Linked DNA regions of Homo sapiens: regions 2 and 3 are each linked to region 1. Evidence: fine-mapped QTL for protein levels in blood plasma. Region 1 holds a variant in brackets. A gene starts in each other region. All regions are shown on their reverse strands.

The links. PIP is the chance, under the fine-mapping model, that this variant and not a neighbour inherited with it causes the effect. Protein levels are from antibody-based Olink assays in UK Biobank. Linkage for the fine-mapping came from a reference panel and not from the study's own genotypes, which makes the PIPs less certain.
Region 2: it holds the start of CCL11, and the variant in region 1 is fine-mapped to the plasma level of the CCL11 protein (UK Biobank, PIP above 0.99).
Region 3: CCL17 starts here. The variant in region 1 is fine-mapped to the plasma level of the CCL17 protein (UK Biobank, PIP above 0.99).

The regions. Positions count from the first base shown.
Region 1 is chr1:159,203,859-159,206,709 of GRCh38, reverse strand. ACKR1 (atypical chemokine receptor 1 (Duffy blood group)) reads right to left here and starts at 1,835. Exons shown (of 2, transcript NM_002036.4): 1 at 1,730-1,835; 2 at 210-1,249. The coding sequence starts at 1,750. The coding sequence ends at 260. The variant C/T (reference allele first, on the strand shown) is at 1,146.
Region 2 is chr17:34,284,295-34,286,794 of GRCh38, reverse strand. CCL11 (C-C motif chemokine ligand 11) reads right to left here and starts at 1,053. Exons shown (of 3, transcript NM_002986.3): 1 at 911-1,053. The coding sequence starts at 986.
Region 3 is chr16:57,402,927-57,405,721 of GRCh38, reverse strand. It overlaps CCL17 (C-C motif chemokine ligand 17), which reads right to left and starts at 955. Exons shown (of 4, transcript NM_002987.3): 1 at 886-955.

The sequences.
Region 1 (2,851 bases):
TCATGCTCTGGTTCCTCTTCTCTTCTCCCTTGAGATGGCCGTGACCCCACACCTCAAGAGAACATCTGTGTACCCTGAGGGTATTTATTCATCATTCACCTTCTTCCCAAGCCAGCTATAGAAGCAGACACTGGCAAGAAAGTCTGACATAAAAATGTCTCTCTCTCCATTCTCCTTCTTCTCCCCAGACAAAATAAGAAACCACCCGCTTCACAAAGGCAGTGTAGACTTTAATTCAGGTTGACAGGTGGGAAGAGAACTAGGATTTGCTTCCAAGGGTGTCCAGATGAGAAGACCATCCTTCAGGGAGGGGCAGAGAGGGCAAGAGGGTGCGGGTGGCCTGGTGGCAGAATAGGGCGAGGAGCAGGGGCGTAGCCACACAGTGCAAAATTGCCAGGGCTTCTGCCAGGTTCAGCAGCAGGTCCAGAGCCTGCTGGGCCAGACATGTTGACAACAGCAACAGCTTGGACCTCACCAGGAAATCCAGTCCTAGAACCACCCCATGAGGCCACCAGAAAATAAACCAGGCCCACAGGATATTCATCCAGGGGCCTGGCCCCATACCCAATGCCTTCTTCAGCCCCTTGGCTCCAAACAAACCCAATGGCAACAAGACAAAGATGGCAAGACAGGCTACAGTGTGTGTGGCCTGCAAAGCCTTCAGCTCCGTGCTGTATATCAGGGTGCAGAGTCCACCAGAAGCACCACTGGCCAGGGTGACAGGCAGTGTCAGTAGGGCAGCCACTCCCCAAATTCCCACAGTGAGCCCCAGGGTGAGGCCTGGGACCTGGCCTGCACCCAGTCTGTGGCCCAGGGAGGCATGGCACCCTAGCAGCAAAGCCTGGGCAAAGGCTGAGCCATACCAGACACAGTAGCCCAGGCTACACAGGGCAGAGCTGCGAGTGCTACCTAGCCCTGGGGCCAAGACGGGCACCACAATGCTGAAGAGGGCACTGCCCACAGCCAGCTGTGCCAGGACAGGCCAGCCAGGGCAGAGCTGCCAGCGGAAGAGAGGTCTGAAAAGCATGAAGAGGACAGTGCTGCTAGCTAGGATACCCAGGACACTGGTGAGGATGAAGAAGGGCAGTGCAGAGTCATCCAGCAGGTTACAGGAGTGGCAGGGGGCAGCTGCTTCCAGGTTGGCA[C/T]CATAGTCTCCATCTGGGAAGGAATCATTCACACCATAGGAAGAATTCCATACATCTTCGAAGTCCAGCTGACTTGAGTTCTCAGTTGAGGGGGAGAGCTCCGCCTGGAGGACATACCCAGAGGAGGCCATCAGAGTTACACCGGAAGAGTCTCCTGGGAATTGAGGGGCAGGTGGGAGGGGAGGACAGAGAGGAAGGTCGGGTGGGAGAACAAGGTCTCTGCAGGAGTCAGATGCAGTGCGGACAGTGGAAAAGGACAAAGCAGGGAGCCTGAAGAGCCGGAGCAGGAACAGTCCTGGGGAAGCCAGGGCAGCTGGGGCTGGAGGAGCAGTGCAAGGTCAGAAGGAAAAGGCACCAAGAGACCAGGATGGAACTGACTCAAAGGCAAAGGGAGGGACACAAGAGGGAGCTAGGAGGCTAGCATAGGAAGGAGAGAAGGAAAAAGACTTTGAAGGAAGAGGAAAAAAGCAGGAAGGGAGAAAAGATGAGGAGGAAAAGGAAGAGATATAAAGACTGAGGGGCAAACAGCAGGGGAAATGAGGGGCATAGGGATAAGGGACTCTGGGGCCTGGCCCCATACTCACCCTGTGCAGACAGTTCCCCATGGCACCGTTTGGTTCAGGCCCGCAGACAGAAGGGCTGGGACGGCTGTCAGCGCCTGTGCTTCCAAGATAAGAGCCAAGGACTAATGAGGGCCATCAGGTTCTGGGCAGGGACAGGGGGCATCAGGAAGCCTTACCCCACGCCCACTGCCTGCACAAGCCTCAGGCCTATGGGGGTCACTGGCCTTGGGTCTTCCTGTTTTGAGGTTGGATTTGGCTGGTTGGGACTACACTCAGGAAAAAGGTGGGGACCAGAAAGTGGGCATTTTACCGAAGTGGAAAGGGAGATTGAGAAAACAGGGGGCTTTCCAGCAAGTAGAGATTTTACCGAAGTGGAAAGGGAGATTGAGAAAACAGGGGGCTTTCCAGCAAGGAGAGATTCTTCAAGCACAAGGAAGGAAGAGAGGGGGGCTGGGTGACTTGTGAGGCAGAGATAAGGGAGGTGCTGGGAAATTGGAGTGGAAGGGCGGCTGACTCTCACTGCTCCTCCATCCCCTTGAACTGGATCCAAGGAAAGGCAGTTCAAAAGCCATGTGTTTGGGAGAAAGGTGGTGGTGGTCAACTCTGTCCCAACTGAGGGGTGTGTGCACGTGGGCGTGAGCTCTTTGTGTGTACTGAACTCTGTGTACGTTTGCTGTGTATCATTGTGCACATATCTGTATGTGAGGGGCTTGGCGGGTGTCTGGGTGTGTCTAGCTATCTCTAGGTCTGGGTGTTTCAGTGTGAGAGTGGGAGGGTTGGGGTGGCTGTCGAGGCTGCATAATGAAGCCATTTCAGGGAGCTATTGGGTGTTTGCCTAGCCACCTATGGGCTCAGTGCATGCCTCTTGCATATGAAGTGGAATACATGGTCTGACAAGTTAAAGTAGGCTCTAGGGGACAATGGGACAGCATATTTTAAAATGGGACCATTGCCCACAGGGTGATTTCTATTCATATTTCTACTGGGGGACATAAAGTCTCTGGAACTGTTTCATTGGCCAGGCATCTTAGCAATATGTAAAGTTTCTCACTGAGGGGCAGAGCTGGCCAGCAGAGAGAAAGGGCATCTACCCTGCAGGCAGGCCGATTCTCCCAAGCACATTTCACTTTTTTAGTGGCTTCT
Region 2 (2,500 bases), not on the chromosome of region 1:
GTAATTTTCACCAAATATTCTCCATCCTCTGTTTTGAGACACAAGGTAGACTTGCATTTCTTGGCCACTTTTGTTTGGTTGGAGGCATTAATTAGTTTTGATCAATAAAGAAGGAGACAAAGTGATGGGTGTCATTTTTGAGCCACAGTGCATTGCCTATGCAAGACTCCTGAGAGCTTTCTTCTGCTTTATCACAGTATCCATCAATGTTCCCCCACATGGGCAACTTCTCCATCAGTCTAGAATCCTGAGTATAAAATGCAGAAGCCTGAGCCCATACATTATAGATATTTAGTACAAGTGAGAAAGTAACTTTTGTTAATTTAGTTAATTCTGTTAAGTCATTGATAATTTAGAACTGTTTGTTACCATGCTATGCACTGGCTCAGTGGGACCGATACACTCAGTAAATTTGTCACCAGAGTATGGGAAAATGAGTTATGGAACAAATCTCCTAGATAACTTTCCCAAAGAGTGTCAAAATAAGTCACCTCAAGAGATCCCCCTGGGACCTCGTTCTTCTCTTAGCCACTGTCTCTGAAAGCTGTCCTGGAGTCGAATTAACATACTGAGCTTCTAATCAACAGATTTTCCTTCTCTCCCACTGCCAAAAATGCCCACCATGCCCACAGTAAGACAGAGCCATTCCCCATTCCCAAACACTGTAAGGATAGCTGGGTATGGATGCACCCAGCAACCCTCTTGAATGTGGGGAAAAGACTCGGGAGCTTTCTAGTTCTGGCTCTTCCAGTGACTGGATGTGAGGTTGAGGCATTTCTTGTCCACCCACAAAACCTGTTTCCCTATTTTTCAAATGGAGAATTTGCAGTGAGTCTGTAAAGATTCTTGCTGACCTAGTAGCTCTGGAGGTGGTTACCTTACCTTTCCTGTAAGGAGTTGGGGGGCTTACCTGGCCCAGCGAGCCCCTGGGGGCTGAAGGCAGCTGCTATGAGCAGCAGCCACAGAAGTGCTGCGGAGACCTTCATGTTGGAGGCTGAAGGTGTGAGCTTTGGCGTGAGAGGTGGTGGTTTCTGGGTTGGTCTCAGCCTCTCTGCTCCTCTGGCCCATCTGCCTGCCTTTTATAGGGAGCAGACAGTGTGGGAGATTCCAGGGAAGCCTTTGCCCATGCGGGGGTCACGATGAAGGGATTCCTGATTGCTGACCAGATTCCAGATCCTAGGAAGTCAAGCAGAACAGAAGAGAGGCAAGCTAGTAGGAGGGACTTGGTACATTTTTTAATCCATCTGGATCTTGCCTTGGAAAAGGAGGGGAATATGTGGTTATGAAATGAAGTTAAACATCTGTAGTGGGGGAAGAGAGCAAGAAAACCAAGGCCCTAGGGGATGAGTTGAAATGAAACACCTGTAGTTGGGGAAAGGAGCAAGGAAACCAAAGGCCTGGGGGATGAGTCGATCTAAGAACCTTCCTTGATTCCTGTGTTCACATGGTGGTCTTGAGGATTTTGGAGACCAGGAAGGAGCCCCAAAACTTCCATTAGGCTCCCACCCAGATGCAGAGAGAGCTCAGCAGCCCTGCACATAGTTGCATCTCTGAACCAGGAAGGACAACACACCACAGCTTTGCTGCTGTGTTTCAATGTAATGATCACAGAATCTTAGTCCCTGAAATTTTAGCATGATAGGACATCAGAACTGGATAGTTTCTATTAATCTTGACTTCTGAGGCACTTTAAAACCATTTGCTTAGCTGCTAAAGCCCTTTTCCAAATGGAATTAAAACAAACCCCAACTCATCAAATACACTGTAGTGAAGGGGATTTGTTTGAAATAGAATAGGCAGCCTCTCGTGCCCTTATTCCCCAGGGAACACATTTAGGGAACACATTTGGAAAATCAATCATCTAGTTCCCCCCTCACTCTCTGAGCACACATTGCAGACAAGGTATCTGATGGCTAAAAATATCAAAGAGAGAGGCAACACAAGAACCTATACATATCCCTTTGTTCATAACACTAGGCACCCTAGTTGGAGAGGGTATAAGGGAGGCAAAGTCTTTAATGGAGTCACTGCAGCGGATTACAGCATTGAATACTGGTGTGGAGGTACTGCAAACCTGTTTCCTGTTTTTTCCTGCACACTCTCATATCAAATTGATTGATTGGTACAGTAGCACAAACAAGAATGTTAAAGATTCTGAGGAGTTGACTTGCGTTAGTTAAATACTGTGTTGTGGTTGACTGGTGATGTCTGTCATGGGCACAGGATTAGAGACAGCTCTTGCTGTCCTGCAAAGTCTCTAAGTGCCCATCTAGGATAATTGGTCTATAATTACCTAAAAAGTTAACTATAATTACCAAATAGAGGCCAAAAATGTGGAGTCTTCCCTGTTCTTTCCTGCTCCATTCCTGGTGGGTTAGTCTAATGTAGAACCTGAATTCAGGATATCTGCATTTGGATGATGGCTCTGTGACTGACTAGCTGTGATACCATGGACAACTTACTTAACCACTCTCTGCTAGGGTAAGAGCAGGATACTAAT
Region 3 (2,795 bases), not on the chromosome of region 1:
GCCCTGACCAGTAACTAATCAGACACACCCACCTGGACACTCCTCCTTCCGGCCCATCTTTCTGTGGCACCCCTCAGCTCTCTCTGCCTTGCAGCCTGGCCAGCTCTGTGCAGTTCTGTCCCCCACACTAACCTGTGAGCTGCTGGGAAGCAGAAGTCTGTCCTGCTATGGTTCACTCAGCCCCAGGTACCAGAAGGGCAAAACCGAGTTCCCTCTCACACCAGCCTCCTTTTTTTCTGTTCAAGCCAGCATTGTTTCCCATCTCCCCATCTGCCCCCAAGTCTGAAACTTTGCCCTTGACTCATTCCTCGCCTCCATCCCCCACATTACATCAGGCAGAGACTCTGCCCAGCGCTGTCTTCAGTGGGAGCTTGGCTTCCTTGCTTCCTTCTCATCTCCACTGGCTCAGCCCTCATCCTTCACACCCAGAGAGTCTCAAAAACTTCTGGGCCTATTTCTTCCTCTCTGGTCTCTCCTGACACCTCCCTCATCAGCTGCATGCCCACATGTGGTGGATCTTTCACAAGGGCTGCCCTGACCATGTAATGCCCCCTTCCTCCAAAACCGTCAATGGCTCCCTGCTTCCTTCCCCATCCAGTCAAAACTTTTCAGGCCAATCTTGAAGCTGTACCTTCCATCTAGCCCCTCCTTCCTATTCAGTCTCATCTCCCTGCTCCCCAACATTGAGCTTTCTTGAGGGCCAGTGCGTCCCCTCACTTTGTGACTTGGTTTGCTGCTTCCAAACTCCTGTCCCCTTCTTGTATGGATTATCTTCCCTTGATCCAAAGTCCATCCACCGCTCATCTAACACATGCCCTGAAAGATCCAGCGAGGGGGTCACCTCACAGTGGAGGGGTTAGGAGCAAAGACTCTAGGTCAGGTCACCTGGTTTTGAATTCAGCTCTCCCATCAGCAGGCGGTGACACTGTGAGCTCAAAGTCACTTCTCTCTGAGCCTCAGTTTCTACAGCTGCAAAATGAAAATAATAACAATAATTACATTAGAAGGCTTTGGTTTGCATCAACTGCCTTACTGCTTATATCTGGCAAATAGTACACGTTTCTGACTTTAAATATCATCTATATGCCAACCACTCCCAAGTTTCTCTCGCAAACTCCAGCCTCCTTCTACGTCCAGCTGCCTACTCGCCATACCAAATAGGCAGCTCCAACCCCCCAAGTCTGAAGCTGAATTTCTGATTCCCACCCACCCCTACACCTGCTCTCTCCTCCTTCTCTGCCAGCCCCTTCCTTCCGGTTACTAGGGCCAGAAACCTGGGCGCTATCCCTGACGCCTCTTCCTCTCGCCCCCAACTTCCCATCTGTTGGGTGAGCTCATGTCTCTGCTTTCCAAATACACCCAGAAACCAGCATCAATCCCTGGCTTCCTACAACTGCCTTCTGGGTGCTCTCCCTGTCTCCATCCTTGCCCCCTACAGTGTATTCTCAGCACAGCAGCAGAGGGACCATGAATCTCCCGTGTTCAGAACGTCCCCGTGGCTCTCCACCTCACGCAGAGGACAAGTCCAAGACCCTCCAGCAGCCACGAGGCCCCGCGAGTTCTGTGCCCTGCTCTCTGCCCACCTGTATCTCCTGGTTCCCTGGTTCACTCTGCCCCAGCCACCCTGGCCTCCTCCCTATGCCTCAAACCAACCAGACAGACATGCTCCTTCCTGAGGAGGTTTGCACGGACTGTTCTTTCAGCCTGGAATGTTGTCCCCAGATACCTGCAGGACTCACTCCTTCACCTTTTTCAAACTTTTTTAGGCCGGGCGTGGTGGCTCACGCCTGTAATCCCAGCACTTTGGGAGGCCGAGGCAGGTGGATCACTTGAAGTCAGGGGTTCGAGACCAGCCTGGCCAACATGGTGAAATCCCATCTCTACTAAAAATACAAAAATCAGCTGAGCGTGGTGGCAGGTGCCTGTAGTCCCAGGTACTTGGGAGGCTGAGGCAGGAGAATCACTTGAACCCAGGAGGCAGAGGTTGCAGTGAGCCAAGATCACACCACTACACTCCAGCCTGGGCAACAGAGCAAGACTCTATCTCAAAAAATATATATATATATATATTATATATATTTATAATATATATAATATATATTATAAATATATATTATATATATTATAAATATATATTATATATATTATAAATATATATTATATATATATAAAATATATATTTATAATATATATAACATATATATAATATAATATATATATTATAATATATATATTATTATATAATATATATAATATAATATATATTATAATATAATATATATATTATAATATATATTATAATATAATATATATATTATAATATATATATTATATATAATATATGTTATATATATTATAATATATATATTATATATATTATAGATAATAATATATATTATATATATTATAGATAATAATATATATTATATATATTATAGATAATAATATATATTATATATATTATAGATAATAATATATATTATATATATTATAGATAATAATATATATTATATATATTATAGATAATAATATATATTATATATATTATAGATAATAATATATATTATATATATTATAGATAATAATATATATTATATATATTATAAATATATATATGTATTTGTTTAGATTACATCTTTCAGTGAAGTCAAATTGCATGCCATCCCCATCTCTTCCTCTGCTCTTTTTTTTTTTTTTTTTTGCTGAAATGCTTATATCCTCTGACATGCTAGGCCATTCGCTTACTTATGTCTGCTGTTTACTATCTGTCTCCCACCTGTACCCCCACCCCCATC